2 separate regions of the Homo sapiens genome follow, and region 2 is linked to region 1. A link means that fine-mapping ties the variant in region 1 to the expression of a gene that starts in the linked region. Tissue or cell type: thyroid. Region 1 holds a variant in brackets; the other region holds the start of a gene. All regions are shown on one strand. Distances are from middle to middle.

Region 1 (5,922 bases):
CTCTAACACTCTGCTGTCCCAACACCAGCCTTAAAGCAGAAGAAAAGTGACATCATAAGAATTTCACGTTTATTTGGATCCTTTGAAGTGGGTTTCAGGGTAGGACATTTTCCTGTGAATTGTAAAAGAGACTTTGAGGCACTTCCTAGGGACTTAGGGTTGGCTCTGCTGTGTCTGACTCTGCGTCTACACTCGCCAGGCCTTCCTCTGGGTGGCTTCTCTGCAGTCGGGACAGGTACTATTGGTAAGAGAGGCCTTGCCTGGCTCACACACAGGCCCTACATGCTCAGTTGCTGTGCTTCCAAGTTCACAACAGATAATGGGGATTAACTTTGAACATGACCTCAAGACCCAGATTATGACCTAGTGATTCTGTTGACCTTAAAAACCCTGATGATGTGGCGGAAGATCTAATGAAAAGAAAATCAGGCCGGGAGCGGTGGCTCACGCCTGTAATCCCAGCACTTTGGGAGGCCAAGGCAGGCAGATCACTTGAGGCCAGGAGTTCAAGAGCAGCCTGGCCAACGTGGTGAAACCCCGTCTGTACTAGAAATACAAAAAATTAGCCAGGCATGGTGGTGCACCTGTAGTCCCAGCTACTTGGGAGGCTGAGGCATGAGAATCGTTTGAACCCGGGAGGCAGAGGTTGCAGTGAACCAAGATCATGCCGCTGCACTCCAGCCTGGGAGACAGAAAAAAAGAAAATCAAATAGCCACTGGCAGTTGAATGGAGCCTGTGGCTGGGGCTGCTCTTTCAAATTCCCCCGATAGGAAGCCACAGAGAAGTTCTGTCAGAAGTAGGCTGACATTTTAACAGACGCGGGGTGACCCAACCACAGATCCTCTGCAATGAAGCTTGAATTTATCTCCTGAGCCCCGTGGCCTCAAAGTCTCTAAATTCAAGAATCTTCCCCAGGCTTTTGCTGTTGACATCTTGGGGCATTTGACTCAAGTAACTCTTTGGAGACCCTCCTCCTCATCCCCACCCCTGGAGAAATCACTTGGGGGCAAACCTCAGTGACGCTCTGTGAGAGGGCTGCAGGGCACACCTGTGCCAGAGACGCCAAGGGAGAACCGACATGTAAACGTCTCTCTGTCCTGGGTCAGATCAAATGGCACAGGCTTTGCCCAGAGGTCTTTTTGTTTCTCCTGCAGCAGTGGGTGGGCAAGGATTTTACTCAAGGAGTCAGTGTTGAAGAAAAACAAATGCCCAAACAGAAGAAGAGGCACAAGTGGCAGCAGAGACAGTAGTAACAGCTGCCGTTTACTCGGCAATCATTCCGCAGGCCAGGCCCTCCATTATACACTAGATCTGAGCCCACAGCCGCCCCTTCGAGAAGGGAGGCAGCGGTAGGTCTGCTGCAGCCAGGAAGTAGCCCAGCTCGGATTTGAACTTGTGTCTCATCTGGCTGCAAAGCCCGCACTCCTCTGTGCTGTGTCAGGATTGAGGAATTCATGAAAGCAGATGTGAAAAAGGATCAGGGATCTGAGGGTGACCACAAGCTAAACATGAATCCACAAATGTGACAGAGCTTTCCCAAAAGCTAGTTTGGATGCATTAACAGAAGTAGAATATCTTCAATGCGGGAGGGAGGAGTCCTCCCCTAGGCTACCGTGGCTGGAGAACAGTGGTTCTGGCCACCTCCCTTTAGGAAGAAAATGGGTGATGGGTGACAAACTCAATGCCTATGAAGCCCGGACAGATACCAAAAATGACGTGGGCTGTGTTTAATGCAACGGGGAGTGGTGAGGACTCTGGCAAACTGCTGCTACCCGGTAAGGCTTCTAGTCCATTTTTGCTAAGTAGAAACAAGGGCTAGATTTTCTGACTTTTCGGGAGAGGCTGGAAATCTGAACTTTTAAATAGATTTTATGAATTCAAAGTAAAATATTCCGGGGCCAAATATAACTTCCACAGGCCCTTTTTAGTCGCTGAGCTACCAGTCTGTGACTTCTGGAGAGCAGCACAGGCCACAGGAGGCAGCCAGGGCCAGGCTCTAGTCCTGTGAGGGACCTGAGGAACAAGGGCGCTTGGGCCCGGGGAGGAGCAGACACAGGGTGCGGGCGCCCCTGTTTTCACACATCTGAGTCATCATGTGGAAGAGGAAGTAGATGTATCTTGTGGGAGCGCAGGGGAGGGCGGAGGACTGATACTCCTCCGGGGCGTAAGAGTTTGACACAACTCAACCTAAAGGGAAAACTTTCTGTCGGCCTGAGGCATCCATGCTGGGACGGACTGTCCTGGGGTGGAGAACATTCCTTAGTGGTGGTGCTGAAGGCTGGAGGCTTTTAGGATGCTGGTGGAGGGTCCACGCAGCCCTGAGGTCCCATGACTCTGTCATTCTCCCGTTTCTGTGCTTTGGAACACAGAAGACGCCCATGTCACCATTCCTACTTGTCTCCCAAGCGCTCTCTCTCTCTGACTGTGTTTTACACTGTTTACAATTTTTTCCCAACTGGTTGTCAAGGCTACAACTCCAGGGTTCCCTCCTTGAGTCTCCCACGCTTCCCAAAGTAGCTGAGCCCACCCAAACGCAAACTCCACGAGGAAGGCTCCACCACGATCTCACCCCCATCATCGCCGCTCTGAACTTCCTTCCACATGGCCCTCAAGCCGACTGGGGCTCAGCCGACTCTATCTCCCCGAGCGTACCTCCTTCTGGCGGGCCAAGCGTTCCTCCAGCTCTTGGACTCTTGTCTGCTCTTCCTCTAATGCTTCCTTCACTCTGTTCTTCTCCTGGGTAATGCTTTTCGCCAAAGCCTGAGTCAACGATCATTGTTCAATAGACATGGTTACCATGGGAGGAAACTGGACTCTGCCAGGCACCGCACAGGTTTCCTCTTCCCTCCAGACTACACCTCCCTAGGGGACTGTGGACAGCACAGCCCTGGAGCTCAGAGCCGGCGGGCCCAGACCAGAGCCCCAGATCCACCCTTCCTAGCTGCAGTGGGGCTCGAGCTGACTCTGTCTCCCTGAGCCACATACCTTCTTCTGCTGGGCCAGGAGGCTCTCCAGTTCTTGCATTCTCTTCCGTTCTTCCTCTAAAGTCTCTTTCGCTCTGTTTCTCTCTTGAGTAATGTACTCCTCCAAAGCCTGGAAACCAATGACCATTGTTTAACAGACATGGTTACCATGGCAGGAATTTGGACGCTGCCAGGCACTGCATGTGCTACCTCTTCACTCCTCAC[C/T]GCACTCCCCTGGGGAGGCTGTGGGCAGCAGAGCCTAGGAGCTCAGAGCATGTGCTCTGGAGTCAGGAGACCCAGGGTAGAGCCCCAGGTTGATCCTTTCCAGCTGTAAGGCACTGGGGAAGTGAAGCTACCAGAGCCTCAGTTTCCCTGCCTGTACAACGGAGACAGTAATAGTCTTCCTGTGTTGGGTTGATGTGAGGGGTGGATGCGACGATGAACACGAAATGCTTGGCACAGTGATAACCATGCTTCCCACCTTGCAGAGGAGGAAACAGGCTTACATTCAAGAATCCACCCAGTTTACTAGTAAATCACAAGAGGAGGGATTCTAACTCTGACCCATTTGATTCTGAAGCCTGTGTTCTAAACCAGAGGTTAGCAAACTATGGCTTACAGACCAAATCTGGTCTGTTTTTGTAAATAAAGTTTTATTGGAACACTGTGCTTGCTGTGTATTGTCTATGGCTGCTTTTGCAGAAGAGCAGAGAGCATATGACCTGCAAAACTGAAAATATTTACTATCTGGCTCTTTATGGGACAATTTGGCCAATCCCTGATCTAACCCATTGGTGTGTGCACAAACCAAGGGATTGTTGTCAACAACTGGCAATAAGAAAAGAATGTTAGATTGATAAAGGAACATAGAATTTTTTTTCCCTTTGAAACAAAGTCCTCAAACAAGTCAAGATTCATGAGATTAATGACCCTGGACACATGTATTTTCGGAAAGGGCAGGTGATGGGAGTCAGAAGGTCTAAGGAAGGCTCATTTAGTCAGGACACTTGGCACTGAAGTCCAAGAGGTAACTTTCCAAGGAGTCCCCAGGGTCAAGTCCATCAATCCGAGTATCAGAGGAAGGGCGACCTTCGAGTGTCACAGTCTGTCTGGCAGGGACCTGATGTTGCTTCCTCCCTCTGCAAGGAGGGTAGGGTGCACCGAGGTTTTCAGGTTTAAAAGAGGGGCTGACGCCAGCTCTTAAAACACTCTGCCAGGCCAGTGTCGCCAGGGTTGTCTAGGAAGACTAGGCAGGCGCCCAACGCAGTGTTTAACATGGTGGGGCTGAAATACCAAACCCTGACAAGGGAAAAAGTCCATCCAAAATTAAAAAGAGAAAATAAGGCATTTGGGATGCCGATGTTAAAAGGAGAAGGTAATCAGAGAAGAAAAAAGGAAGTCGGTGGAGAGTTCTGCGAAGATTTTGAAGATTTCTAGGTACTTTCTGGTTTTATTTTCTTCTCTATGGAACGGTGCTGGCTTTTTCCGTATCTAAATGCCCTTCAAAATGTGCCCATCTTGATTTATAGCTATCATTAATATTACCTTTATGCGGATTGCACATGATTTGGTCAGATGGCTCTTCTTTTTTAATCTTTTATTTCGCAAATGCAGAAAAGCAGAGAAAGAGGCAAAGAGAAGAAGGAGGAGGAGACTGATGTTTTGGGGTAACTGGACACACATGTGAGGATGGAGATGAAAGAGGGAGAGGTCTGGAGGGCAGGTGTGTGTGGTAGAGAAGGAGCTGGGGAAAGATGGAGAAGGGGGCAGGTCCAGTACTCTTCCGGGGAAGAGAGGAGATATCTGGGAAGAGTTGGGGTCCGGTGGATCTGGGGGGCTGCTGTCTTGAGGGGGCTGTGAGGAGGGGCAGCATGCACACGCTGCTCCACACCCACCCACAACAGTGGCTCGCAACCGTGGCTGCACTTTGCGACCACCCGGGAGTGCTTAGAAATCCCACAGCAGGGGCCACACCCTCACCCCACTAAGATCAGAATGTGGAGAGTCGGCGGGGAGAGGTGCAAGGCATTAGTAATTTTTAATCTCCTAAATGACAAAAGTCATAAAGACAGTGAAATTCATGGGAGGGGTCCCTGAATATCAAAAAGGGCCAACCCTCAGGTATGGTGGCTCATACCTGTAATCCCAGAACTTTTGGAGGCTGAGGTGGGAGGATCACTTGATGCCAGGAGTCTGAGACCAGCCTGGGCAACATAGAGAGAGACCTCATTTCTACAAAAAATAAAAATATTAGCTGGGTGTGGTGGTGTGTGCCTGTGGTCCCAGCTACTTGAGAGACTGAGGTGGGAGGGTCACTTGAGCCCAGGAGTTCAAGACCAGCCTGGGCAACATTGCAAGATCCCATCTCTACAAAAAAAAATAATAATTAGCTGGGTGTAGTGCCATATGCCTGTGGTCCCAGCTACTTGGGAGGCTGAGGTGGGAGGACCACTGCAGCCTGGGAGTTCGAGGCTGTGGTGAGCTATGGTCACACTATTGCACTCCAGCCTGGGCAACAGAGCAAGACCCCATCTTAAGAAAAAAAAGGGCCAACTCTAGGACAGTGATGAGAATCAGCTCATTAAATAATACAGTTTCCTGGCCCTCTCCAGATGTTCTGATTTAATGGGTCTGGAGGGTGGAGACCAAGATCTGCATTTTTAGCAAAGCATCTGGATGGTTCTTATCAGGAAACTTTGGGAAAACCTTCCTCTAAGCCTTCGCCCTAAGAAAATGTGGATCTGCAGACTGGTAGCGTCAGTACCATCTGGGAGCTTGTTGAAAATGTAGCGTCTCAGGCCTGCTGAGACAGAATCTGCATCTTAACCAGATCCCCAGACAATTCATGGGCACGTTCGAGTTTTAGAGATGCTGCTATCTTCTAACTGGCTTGATTTCTAGAAAAGTCAGTAGCAATTTTGACCATTTGTTTCCCCCGATATGTATAAAGAGAAAGCA
Region 2 (5,922 bases), 98 kb after region 1:
ACACATCTTTTAAGACAAACACTTCAGTGACTTCAGAAAGTTCTAAAATATTGACAGTAATTCATCTCGATGCTTGAATCCGATTTGAGATTACGTCTAAAGATGCAGTGTGATATCCTCCACCTCAATTCCTTGTCAAAGAACAACAACAGTCTCTCTCTTTTCCATTCAATTGAAAAGTCAGTGAAATGACAAATTATTGGACTATGGGTAAAAACAAAAATCAACTAGTTGTGGTGGTACGGACTCTCGGGGCTGGCTCTGCTTTTCATCATCATCTCTATCATCATTTATGGAGTCCTTAGTAAGTGCCAGGCACTTTTCCTTGAATATACTCTTTTCATCCTCAGAGAAACCCTGCAAGGTGGGTGTCATTATTGTCCCTACTTTACAGAAAAGGAGACTGAGATGCAGAGAGGTTAAGGTCCCCTAGCATTCGGGCAGGGAGATTGCCATTGCATGTCACCACTACATAATCCTCAGGCAGCTCAACTTTTCACACCTCCATCACTGCTGGGTGGGGAGGGGATGGGATGGGGGAGCAGAGAGAGTGACTGAGTGGGGGGAGGGAGAGGTTGTCACTTGGGATAGTGGGGTTGTCACTGTTTTGTTGACACTTAGGACATGAAATAACAGATAGCCCTTAACACCAGAATTCTATCCTCTGCAAAAAAAGAAAAGACCCTTGGGAGTAAGAGAAATAAAAACAAGCCAGATAGTTTATGTTTGTAAATTCCGAAGCCTATGAGAAATCCTCAGAAATATTAATACTTTCATATAATGAGAATTTTATTTTTAAGTCTGCTGTCTTTAATAGGGATAAAAAGACACTTCTTTTTCCAAAAGAACCATGCCCTGTTGCCCTCAAATTGCCTGAGTTATTAATCTTCAATTGCAGAGGACTACATCATCAAGCACCACATCCAAACTAAAGTAAAAGTAATCTAAAGTCAACTTTCGAGAAATGTCTCTTTTGTGGGAAAGCCACAGGAAATGCCTCCAGAGTAAAACCCCAAATCTGAATGACTGGCTTTTTTTTTTTTTTTAGCTCTTCCCCCCGATGTTTCCACAGCTGGTGCCTTGCGGTAGCTACCTGACCACCCCAGCTAAAGGCGTCACCAGTCACTTTGTTGTCTAGCTAGCATGTGTCACTGCTGTGGCTCCTTCCTTGAGCTTATCATTCTCTGTCATTTTCTTGTTCTTTACTTAGCTGTTTACTGTTTCCCTTTCACTGAGATACGTTCCAAGAGAGCCCAAACTGTGTTGTTTTTGTTAAACTCAATTCTCCATGGGTTTCCTGTGTTTGTACCCATCTTCAGAGCAAAGACACTGACAGATTTTGTTCCAGACAATCTTCCAAGGACATCTGTAGGGCAAATATCCTGAGAGGATAGGGATAGTGTCCCTATCCAGGGCAGAGTGCAGATTTATGATAAAAATGTCATCTCTGGCTGGGCACGGTGGCTCATGCCTGTAATCCTAGCACTTTGGGAGGCCCAGGTGGACGGATCACCTGAGGTCAGGAGTTTGAGACCAGCCTGGCCAACATGGCGAAACCCTGTCTCTACTAAAAACACAAAAAAATTAGCCGGGCATGGTGGCTTGCACCTGTAGTCCCAGCTAATCGGAAGTCTGAGGCAGGAGAATCACTTGAAACCGTGCAGCAGAGGTTGCAGTGAGCTGAGATTGTGCCACTGCACTCTATCTAGCTTGGGAGACAGAGCAAGACTCTGTCTCAATTAAAAAAAAAAAAAAAAGGTCATCTCCTTCCAGGGCAAAGGTTGGGCACTGGCTAGCAGCCCCTTTTAAAAGACTGGAGTTTCCTGAGCTTGGGGTTCCTTAGCTGGGAAACAGACTCGCAGTGTGCACAGCATCCACCTGAGCTGTCCTGCATCACCCCGGGGTACTTGCAGGGCAAGGGGAACCAACGCAAACATGAGCTCACAGTGCCTGCTGTGCTGTGAGTAATAACATCCTTTGTCTCTGGTCCTGGAGTCTCTGGTCTTCTGCTAGCATCATTAAGCAGTGGCAGGCTAACTTAGCTTGCAAGTAGTGTAAAAATCTCAGACCCTTTGCATTTCCTCACAGTCTGTTCATTACTCCCCTCTGGCCCCCAGCGCTGCCATGCCTGACACATAGTGGTGCTCAGTAAATCATGAATGAATGAAAGTACAAAACAATGCTTAAAAGTAAGTCAGGGTAGCCTAAGAACCTCTGACAGTAACTACCTTTCATTTTCCCCTTCAGTATTTATCCTAGATGACATTCTGGAAAAAAAAAAAAAAGTCTATTTCTTTAGCTGAATGGGTTGGGCCCTATTTCCCCACTTTAATCTTGCCCTGTGCAGTCACTTTCCTACCTGAAAACACTGTAGAAAGTGATTAGATGCGTTAAACTCTGTAAATTAGTTCTAAGACACAGGGCACCGACCATGCAAAAGAGCAAAAGAGCTTCAGGCATCTGCACTCCCTGCTTATAGGTCACAAGTGAGATAGAGAAGCAAAATTTCTGTTGAGGGGTTACCAGATCTTAAGTGGCCTGGGAGCCCTAGAAATTCCTCAGTGTTGTATTTGGGAAGGGAGAGGTTAGGCAAGGGGGGAGTCTCTCTGACCGCCGGGTGGGTGTCGTTCGTAAGTCAGGGGCAGCAGGGATGCCCCTCCTAATCCCAGCTGTAACCCCCAGGACTTCCCAGAGTGGCATGGCTGGTGCCAAGGAGGGTCTAAGGCTCCCGGGGGCTTCCTCCGCGGGCGGGGTGGGGCCTGCATCTGGAAAGGAGGGGCTGGTGTTGGGGTAGCTACTGGGGTGCTCCTGGGGACCGGAGCCTGGATCCAGGAGGATGGGGCCGGGGAGCCACCCCTCCTCCTGCCAGGGCTAGTCCTCGCTGGGCCGCCCCTTCCGGTCCCCGGTCTCGGCCCGCCACCCCTTCCCGCGCCGCACTCACCTGGCGGGAGGAGGAAGCCCACGCTCCGACCTCCGCCGAGAGCCCTGCCAGCTCGGGAGGCGTCGGGCCAGCTCCGGGGCGAAGCCTCCCGGCCGCGCTCCCGCGGAGTCTCCAGCTCGCACCCGGCACCCCGCCCGCCCGGCCGGCCTGTGTACGCGCGTTGCCATGGCAACGCCGCCAGGCGCCGCGGGGTCCAGCCTAATAGATGAGGGCGTGGCCTGCGCGGCAGAGGGGGCGTGGCACCGTGCAGGGAACGCCCACTGGGTTACCGCCTGCTGAATGCTCCAGGCCCCACGAGCCTGCCCCATTTCACAGATAGGAAAGCGGAGGCTCAGAGGTCACAGAAATGGCCCAAGGTTTTACAGCGAGGAAGGAGCAGGGAGGAGATTTGATTCAAGAATCCTTTCCATTACCCCTCACTGTAAGCTGGATGCGTTGAGGGAGGGTCGGGGGCGATAGGGAGAGGTAGGAGATTGATGGAGCTGAACTCATGAGACCCTTGGAGGTTAGTATGCCCCCTGCCCTACCCAAATCTCTAGTCCTTTCCGTTACAGGCCAGAAAATAGAAAGAGTAAGAAGAGGGGATCTCTGGGAGTGGGGTGGGGATTGGGAAAGGGATGGGGTGGAATGAAAAATTTTGAAAGAATGAGGATTTCTTCCATGTGCTGGGGAAAAAATATTTCCAAACTCACAATCCTGCTGCCTCTGCTCCTCCCTGTTAAGAGTGACATTTATTCATTCTTTTGCCCTTTCTCTATCTCTGCAAACATCTTTTGAGTCCTATGAGTGTCACACGCTGATCCCAGAATACACCTGGAACAGTTACTGTCCTTAAGAAACCGCTTGTCAGCCGGCACAGGACTCGCGGGATGGAGTGTGTTGAGCAGATGTGCAAATCCTATCTCCCGCCACTATCTCCAGCAGGAAATCCTATCTCCTGCTGACTCTACCTGGAGAGTGATTCCTTTCACTGGCAGGAAATGGCTGACCAGACACCTCAAGAAAAACTCTAAACGTTTTTCTAAGAGAGATGAACTATGGCACATTCTACCCTAGTGATACGGTTTGGCTGTGTGTCCCCACCCAAATTTCATCTCGAATTGCACTCCCCACGTGTTGGAAGAGGGGCCTGGTGGGAGGTGATTGAATCATGGGGGCAGACTTCCCGCTTGCTTTTCTCATGATAGCGAGTGAGTTCTCATGAGATCTGATGGTTTAAAAGTGTGGCACTTCCCCCTTTGCTCTCTCTCTCTCCTGCTACACCATGTTACAACATGCTAGCTTCCTTGCTTCCCCTTGGCCTTCCGCCATAACTGTAAGTTTCCTGAGGCCTCCCTAGCAGTGCAGAACTGTGAGTCAATTAAACTTCTTTTCTTTGTAAATTATTCAGTCTCAAGGAATTACTTTATAGCAGTGTGAGAACAGACTAATACACCTAGTCAATAGGAAGAGGATCTGAGAGAGAAATCATGGACATCGATTTGTGGTGGAATATACAGTGAAGATGCTCAAACGTGCCTGGAGGCTTTTAGAAATGCGGACTTCTGGGCACAGACCCCAGAGATTCTGATTTAGCAGGCCTGGGACATAATCCAGGAATGTGCATTTGCAACAAGCTTGACAAAACCCTGATTTATGCAGCTGAACTGCAGAGACCTCTCCCGGAGCCTGTCCCTACAAATCTCTTCCAGGCCCTCAGTCTGGAAGGTTCTGCCTGGATCAGTTTCCTACAACCAGAAAGATTCTAGGCGTAAAATGTTAGGAGGGACCACAAGGGCTGGGACCCAAGTGATGGCTTCACAGGAACAGAGAGGGTCAAGCTCAGCTTCCCACACGTTTCTGCCTCAGAGCCTTTGCTCTTGCCCATTCCTCTGCCTGGAATGCACTTCCCCTCAAGAGTCTCCTTTGCCTTCTTTACTTTAGCTTTTTACTCACATATCATCTTTTCTAAAATTGGTTTTTTGAAACAATGAAACAACCACCATGAAATCTAATAAACAACAAAAAAGAGCAAATAAAAACAATAAGAACAGCAAAAGCAAATAAAAATAAGAACAACAAAAGCAAATAAAAATAAGAACAACAAAAGCACATCCAAACAAAATAAAAACCTCAACACTCTATCCCTCTTCCCTTCTTTTTGCCACTTGCTATAGTTAGAATATTTGACCCCTCCAAATCTCATGTTGAAATTTGCTCCTCAGTGTTGGAGGTGGGGCCTGGCGGGAGGTGCTTGGATCATGCGGGCGAATCCCTCATGGATGGCTTGGTGCTGTTCCTGTAGGGTGCATGAGTTCTCACTCTATCAGTTTCCTAAAGAGCTGATTGTTAGAAAGAGCCTGGCACCTCCCCCTCGCTCACTCTCACTTCCTCTCTCATCATGTGATCTCTGCACATGCAGGCGCTACTTTCTGCCAGGAGTGGAAGCAGCCTGAGACCCTCACCAGAGGCAGATGCTGGCACCATGCTTCTTGTACAACCTGCAGAACTGTGAGCCAAATAAACCTCTTTTCTGGATAAATGACACAGCCTCAGGTATTACTTGATAGCAACACAAATGGACTAATACATCACTTATCATCAACTCACATACTATTTCTTTATTTATTTATGTTATTTATTGTGTCTCCCTCCCTGACCCCTGGTAGAATCTAAACTCCATGAAAGCAGGAATTTCTTTTTTCATGTTTTGTTTGCTGCTGTGCCACCAGTCCCTAGAACAATGTCTGAATGAATAAATATGCAGGGGGAAGCCCCTGCCACCCTTCTGAAGCCCGGCCTCCTGTCCTCTGAGGACTGCTGGGCTGACCTGTCCTCGCCCCAGGATGTCGGCTTCTCTAGTCCCCTGCCCAGGCCTGAACACCACCTCCATCCCTACCACCACCCCTCCATGCTTGTCTTTGGTCAAACTCTTGTCATTAACATGAACCCAGGACACAAACTTGCTATCAGACAGACCCCAGTGAAACCCAGGCTGGCCA

Which allele goes with the higher level. Alleles are on the strand shown, and positions count from the first base shown. SD is a standard deviation of normalised expression in the study named.
For the expression in thyroid of the gene that starts at base 3,114 in region 2, allele T in region 1 goes with a higher level than allele C (small effect, 0.18 SD a copy in GTEx).

What was found. PIP is the estimated chance that this variant, and not a neighbour inherited with it, causes the effect.
Region 2: FHAD1 starts here. The variant in region 1 is fine-mapped to the expression of FHAD1 in thyroid (GTEx, PIP above 0.99).

Annotation. Positions count from the first base shown.
Region 1 is chr1:15,342,255-15,348,176 of GRCh38, reverse strand. It overlaps FHAD1 (forkhead associated phosphopeptide binding domain 1), which reads right to left. Exons shown (of 34, transcript NM_001391957.1): 17 at 2,987-3,094; 18 at 2,654-2,761. It overlaps FHAD1-AS1 (FHAD1 antisense RNA 1), which reads left to right and starts at 4,294. Exons shown (of 2, transcript NR_148919.1): 1 at 4,294-4,401. RefSeq lists an enhancer at 2,185-2,384. The variant C/T (reference allele first, on the strand shown) is at 3,190.
Region 2 is chr1:15,244,415-15,250,336 of GRCh38, reverse strand. It overlaps FHAD1 (forkhead associated phosphopeptide binding domain 1), which reads right to left and starts at 3,114. Exons shown (of 34, transcript NM_001391957.1): 1 at 2,942-3,114. RefSeq lists silencers at 2,849-3,088, 3,106-3,279.